2 separate regions of the Homo sapiens genome follow, and region 2 is linked to region 1. The links come from fine-mapping of genetic effects on gene expression. A gene starts in region 1. The other region holds a variant in brackets. All regions are shown on one strand. Distances are between the middles of the regions. Region 1 holds the start of OSGIN1 (oxidative stress induced growth inhibitor 1). Region 2 overlaps SLC38A8 (solute carrier family 38 member 8).

Evidence for each region. PIP is the estimated chance that this variant, and not a neighbour inherited with it, causes the effect.
Region 2: its variant is fine-mapped to the expression of OSGIN1 in whole blood (TOPMed, PIP above 0.99).

What each region holds. Positions count from the first base shown.
Region 1 is chr16:83,952,037-83,954,536 of GRCh38, forward strand. OSGIN1 (oxidative stress induced growth inhibitor 1) reads left to right here and starts at 1,204. Exons shown (of 6, transcript NM_182981.3): 1 at 1,204-1,334. RefSeq lists a silencer at 1,479-1,528 and an enhancer at 2,017-2,500.
Region 2 is chr16:84,028,105-84,031,112 of GRCh38, forward strand. SLC38A8 (solute carrier family 38 member 8) reads right to left here. Exons shown (of 11, transcript NM_001080442.3): 6 at 1,390-1,447. Among named protein-coding and RNA genes, the nearest start is that of SLC38A8, 13 kb to the right of the region's middle. The variant G/A (reference allele first, on the strand shown) is at 1,711.

The DNA.
Region 1 (2,500 bases):
TACTTCCCTCCCTCCCTGCCTTCCTCCCTCCTTCCCCCCCTGCTTCCCTCCCTCCCTGCCTCCCTTCTGTTTAACCGATGTTGAGTGCCTATGTGTCCTAAGCGCTGTTCTAGACACTGTGTAGAGCAGTCACGAATATACTTCCCTGCCCACACAGAGCTCACATTCTGGTTTGGGAAGAGAGACAATAAAATAATTCAGAAATAGGCCAGGTGTGGCATCTCACGCCTGTAATCCCAGCACTTTGGAAGGCTGAGGCGGGCGGATCATCTGAGGTCGGGAGTTCGAGACCAGCCTTGCCAACATGGTGAAACCCTATCTCTACCAAAAATACAAAATTAGCCGGGCGTGGTGGCACATGCCTGTAATCTCAGCTACTCAGGAGGCTGAGGCAGGGGAATCACTTGAGCCCGGGAGGCGTAGGTTGCAGTGAACCGAGATCGCGCCATTGCACCCCAGCCTGGGAAACAAGAGCGAAACTCCTTCTCAAAATAATAATAATTAAGAAACAGCAAGGTGTGGGGTGTGCAGTGCTACCCACATAAAACAGGAGAGAAGAGCCTGGGAGCAGGCTTCAAGTTCTAAGCATGGCAGACAAGAAGGATGTCATGTAAACCCTCACGGCCACTCTGGTAGAGACAATCTGTGACTTGGCCCCAGTTTTCAGATGAGGAAACTGAGGTGCGGGCCCTAAGGCAGCTTGCCAGAGCCCTGCAGCTGGGAAATGGCAAAGCTGGATTCGCAGCCCAGGCAGGCTGGTGCCAGAGGGCTTTTGGGGATTGGAGGGTGCAGTGAAATCCAGGTGGAATGCGGGAACTGGACGGGGTTTCGCCACTTAAAGGTACTGTTATTTTAACTGTGTGCGGGACAAAGCCATCTCCTCTTCGCTTATGGCAAAGGCCAGGCTGGCTCATTCAGAGGTCACTGGTTCCTCCTCCAGAGACTGAGCCCCAGGGATGGGGGTCTGGCTAGGGGGAGGTGGCTGGGAGGGAGCGCCACCCTAGGCCCCCTGGCAGGCCGCCCAGCAGGGGCCCTTTAAGGCTGGCCATGAGGCAGGCAGCGTGACACCCGCCCAGTGTGCAAGTTCATTCATCACGGGCCCCTGCTGACTCACGCTTATGAAAGTGATTTTCCTGGCCCCGCCCACTGCCTGCGCCGCCTCCTCCCTCCCCGTGAAATACCCTCACTTCCCTCTGGCCTCTCAGAGCCTCTTGGATCCCCACAGGGTAATGGGTGTCCCGATCTCGCGGGGGACTCTGTGATCCGTGTTCCCCTGACCCTCCTAGTGCACAACTTGGCCGGGCTCACTGGGCTCCTGCACCACTGCCTGTCAGGTGAGTGTCCGGGGCCAGGTTCCGGGGCAGGGAATCAGGCACATCCCAGGCACCCGTGGCAAGCCCAGCTGGACCGGAGGGTCTGCAGAGCCCTGGCGCCAGGCGGGGGTCCCGGGTGGTCCTGAGTGGAGGCCCTCGCCTGGGTTCTCTGGAGCCCGGCAGGATTCTCCCCTACACCAGGTTCCTCCCAGATCCTCAGCTGTGTCCCTGTCCAGGTGCCTGGTACCCTCAGCCAAGCAGCTGAAGCGGCCACAGTCCCAGCGTACCCTGGGCCATGTGACCGCCGCTCCTAGCAGGAAAGAGGGGTGTGGCCAGCCCGGGCTTACTGCCCAGCTGTTCCAAGGCCACTGGGTCGGCAGCCAGGCTGGGTGCCTTCTGGGTTTCTGCTTCTCCTGCTCAGGAGGGACAGAGCCCTTGGGTGCCCATGAACAGCCCCCATCCCTGGAGGTCCCAGCGACTTAGCTTCTCTCAGGAGGCTCAAGAGTGCGGCGGGTTGGGAGGGCGGCCCCTGGGAGGCTGGGGAGCTGCAGGAGACCCTGGGCTCCAGGTGTGCGGCACTGGGGCGAGGGCTCGTCTGTGATAAATGGCAAGTGCCGCTTGCGTGGACAGACCACCCCCTCACACTTTAGCGCCCCCAGGGCTTCGTGTCACTTTCTTGGTCTCCCTGTAATCAGCTGTTTTACTGGAGGGGACTTGGCAGAACTAAGATTTGTCACATGGCCGTGGTCTTGGACCCTCCTAGGTGACCTGGGGCAAGACGCCCACTCCTCCTGACCAGCTTTTCTTCCTCTGCACAATGGGGATAAGAACACCCACCTCCTGGGGTGTCTTCAAAGGCAAAGGAGTAAATGGCCACTAGAGGTGCCAAAGAAACGCAGACATACAGGTGTCCCAGAGTCTCAGAGCAGTTTGCAGCTTTAACAACCTCAGAAGTACAAATGCCGCACACTTGAAAGAAACGTCAGTCGAAGGTGCAACTGTTTTCATTTCTTTTATCCTGTTTGCCTTTGTGAAATTTGAAACATCAATTTTTAATGTTAACTTCTTTCCATCAACATCTGCCATCTTCAATTAAAGGGACTTAAAAAGATAACATTAAAAATTGATTCTTCCAACTCCGTAAAACTAAAAAGCACAAAAGGAATTGAAATGAAACTTTTGAACTC
Region 2 (3,008 bases), 76 kb after region 1:
GCAGAGCTCACTGATGGTCAAGGGAAGAGACGAGCTCAATGGCTACAAAGCTGAGATCCGGTGGTAAACCCTGGACACATCTCCCTGTGGACTTGATTTTACTTTGGAATGGTTTTGTTGGTGCTGGTGGTAGGCAGTGGATAGGTGGTTGTTTTTAGGACATCGAGGCAAATCTTCCCGAAAATAAGCAGCGTGGCCAGGCACGGTGGCTCACGCCTATAATCCTAGCACTGTGGGAGGCCGAGGAGGGCAGATCGCTTGACGTCAGGAGTTCAAGACCAGCCTGGCCAACATAGTGAAACTCCCTCTGTACTAAAAATACCAAAAAAAATTAGCCAGGCATGGTGGTGCACGCCTGTAGTCCCAGCTACTCAGGAGGCTTGAACCCAGGAGGTGCAGTGCAGTGAGCTGAGATCCACTACACTCCAGCCTGGGCAATAAGAATGAGACTCCAACTCAAAAAAAGAAAAAAAAAAAAAGAAAGAAATGGAAGAGCAGTGTCTGCTTCCACCTGCTAGGAGGGCTGCGGGAACCCATGACAGCCCAGAAGCAGAGGACTGAGCCCAGGCCCGCCACCTCCCCTGCCCCCCCTGCCCCGCCACCTTCCCCCCAGCGCTGTGCCACAGAGCCCTCTGCAGGTCTCTCTCCAGCTGTGCCTGGGGCCCGCTCACATCGGTGACCCACCTATGCTATCCCACCTGTGCTGTCCTCTCTACCTGGGGTGCGCTTCCAGTCACCTGGCTGCTGCCCATACATCCTTCAAGATCCCTTTCAAACCCCACCACCTTGAGCGGACACCTCTGACTCTGCCCCTCTGCCAGGATTCTACACATATAGCCCCGTCCTCCCTCCCATGACATTCTATTAAAAATTCTGTATTTCTGCCCCTTTCCCCTCTCCAATCAGCTCCCTGTACACCTTCCAGCTCCTCTACCCTGTACCCCTCAGGAGGCAGGATCTTTCCTGCCCAAGGCCCTGGGCAGAGTCCACCTGGGTAAAACTGTCCTGCCAGAGTTAGGTGGGCAGCTTAGGCCTCCAGGCCTCAGGTCTGACTGCAGTCCTGTGGGGGTTCTGCAGAGGAAGGGACAGGTCCCGGGTCCCCACACTCTACGCGAAACCTAAAAAACATGGTGCTGCTTTTGGCCATCAGTGGGGGCTGGATTCCCAAGTTCAAGGCAATTCCCACTTCCCTGAGCCCAGACACCAACCCATCCTCATGGTCTGGAATGACAGCCTGGGAACCACAGGTGGGCGGCACAGAGCCCACTGTATCCTAGGAGAAGTCCTCAGACGCCTCCCTGACAGAGAAACCAAGGTTTCCCAAGGGAGCAGAGAGTCACCCACAGCCTCTGCAAACGCCACAGGCTGCAACACAGATGCTAAAATTACCTGAAACCCGAAGCAGATGGTGGGGAAGACACTGAACACAGAGGTCCAGGAGGCAGGGCTGTAAACAGACAAGAACAGGAGTTTATTAAAGAAGGGTCACACCCGGAACAACCTGCGGCTGCAATGGTGAATTTTAAAGGATGCTGGGAAAATGTAACAGAGCATGGCTGCAAGATGTATTTTTAATGACTGTGTCCGTGACCGGGCTTTTGGAAATGGAAAAGGATGCTGGCTAAATGCTGCACTTTCTAAATACGTCTTTGCTGACATTTGGTAACATGACATTTTACATGTGGGCAGAATTTGGGCAGGAAAACCGCA[G/A]TAGGAACTCCCAACTTCCCTCTTGAAGGCTGCTGGCTCCCAGTGCGGTTTGGTAATTGGCAGGGGCGGGGGCACCCAGAGCATCCACCCAGTGATCCCAAATAGCACAAGGATGGTTTGAGCTCTGTCCAAGCCACCTAAGAGGACAGAGGTCTGCGTGGGGAGAACCTCCAGGTCCAGCCTCTTGGGATCCCCGCCTGGTTCACAGCTTCCTTTGACAGGCTTTGCAGGTGTAATTACTGAAAGTAAGATGAAGTCATGGTGGATTAGGGTGAGCCTGAATCCAATGCCTGCTGCCCTTATTGGAAGGGAAAACAGACAGAGAGAACATGGTGTGAGGATGAAGGCCAAGACCCAGTGATCCGTCTATCAGCCAAGGAACACAGATCGCCGCGGCCCCCAGAAGCAGGAAGAGACAGGAAAGATCTGCCCCTGGAGTCTTCGGAGGGAGCATGGCCTGACCACACTTTGATCACTTGTCACAACAGCCCTCGGACACTCACATATCCTAACTCATCACCTCCTGTTTTTACCAGGGCCTCCTCATCCCCTCGACCTGCCTGTGCTAGAGTACCACCGGCTCAGTGTACAGATCTCAGCACTCACAGCCTTCAATGCCATGTCTGGGCCAACGTCAGCCACGTTTCTCCTGCCAGCCCGGACCTCTCTCTCTGAACTTCAGACACACAGACCTGCCCAGCTGCTTGACTTCCCTCTTAGATGTCTCCAGGTCGGCTCTACCTTGACTGTTCCAGCCTGAGCTGCTCCCAGGGACCCGCCCTGCTCAGTCCTCTCTAATCCAGGAAACAGCATCTCCATCCTTCCCACTGTTCAAGCTGAGAGCTCCAAGTTACCTTGACTTTCTTCTCTCTCTTACTCACCTTCCAACCCACCAGCAGCACTGACCACAGAATTCACAGGGCCAGGTGCAGGAGGAATATGCGGGGACCCTTGTTGGACAAGGATTAAGGATTTTAAGACAGTGACATCAGAAGGGTACACTGAGCATGGGGCCTGGGTGACTGTAGGGGTCGCACACCCACGAGCCAGCCCTGCCACTGGGAAATCCGATCTCAAGCATATCCAGTCTGACTATTCCTCATTGCCTCCTCTGAAGCCACCAGGTCTGGGACCCGGGATCTAGGCAGAGGCCTCCCACTTGGTCTCTGTTGCTGCCCCTGGCTCCCAAGGACCACAGAACAGAATAAAAAGGGTGAGCCTTTTTATTAATTTTTTTCTTTTTTGAGACAGAGTCTTGCTCTGTTGCCCAGGCTGGAGTGCAGTGGTATCATCTCGGC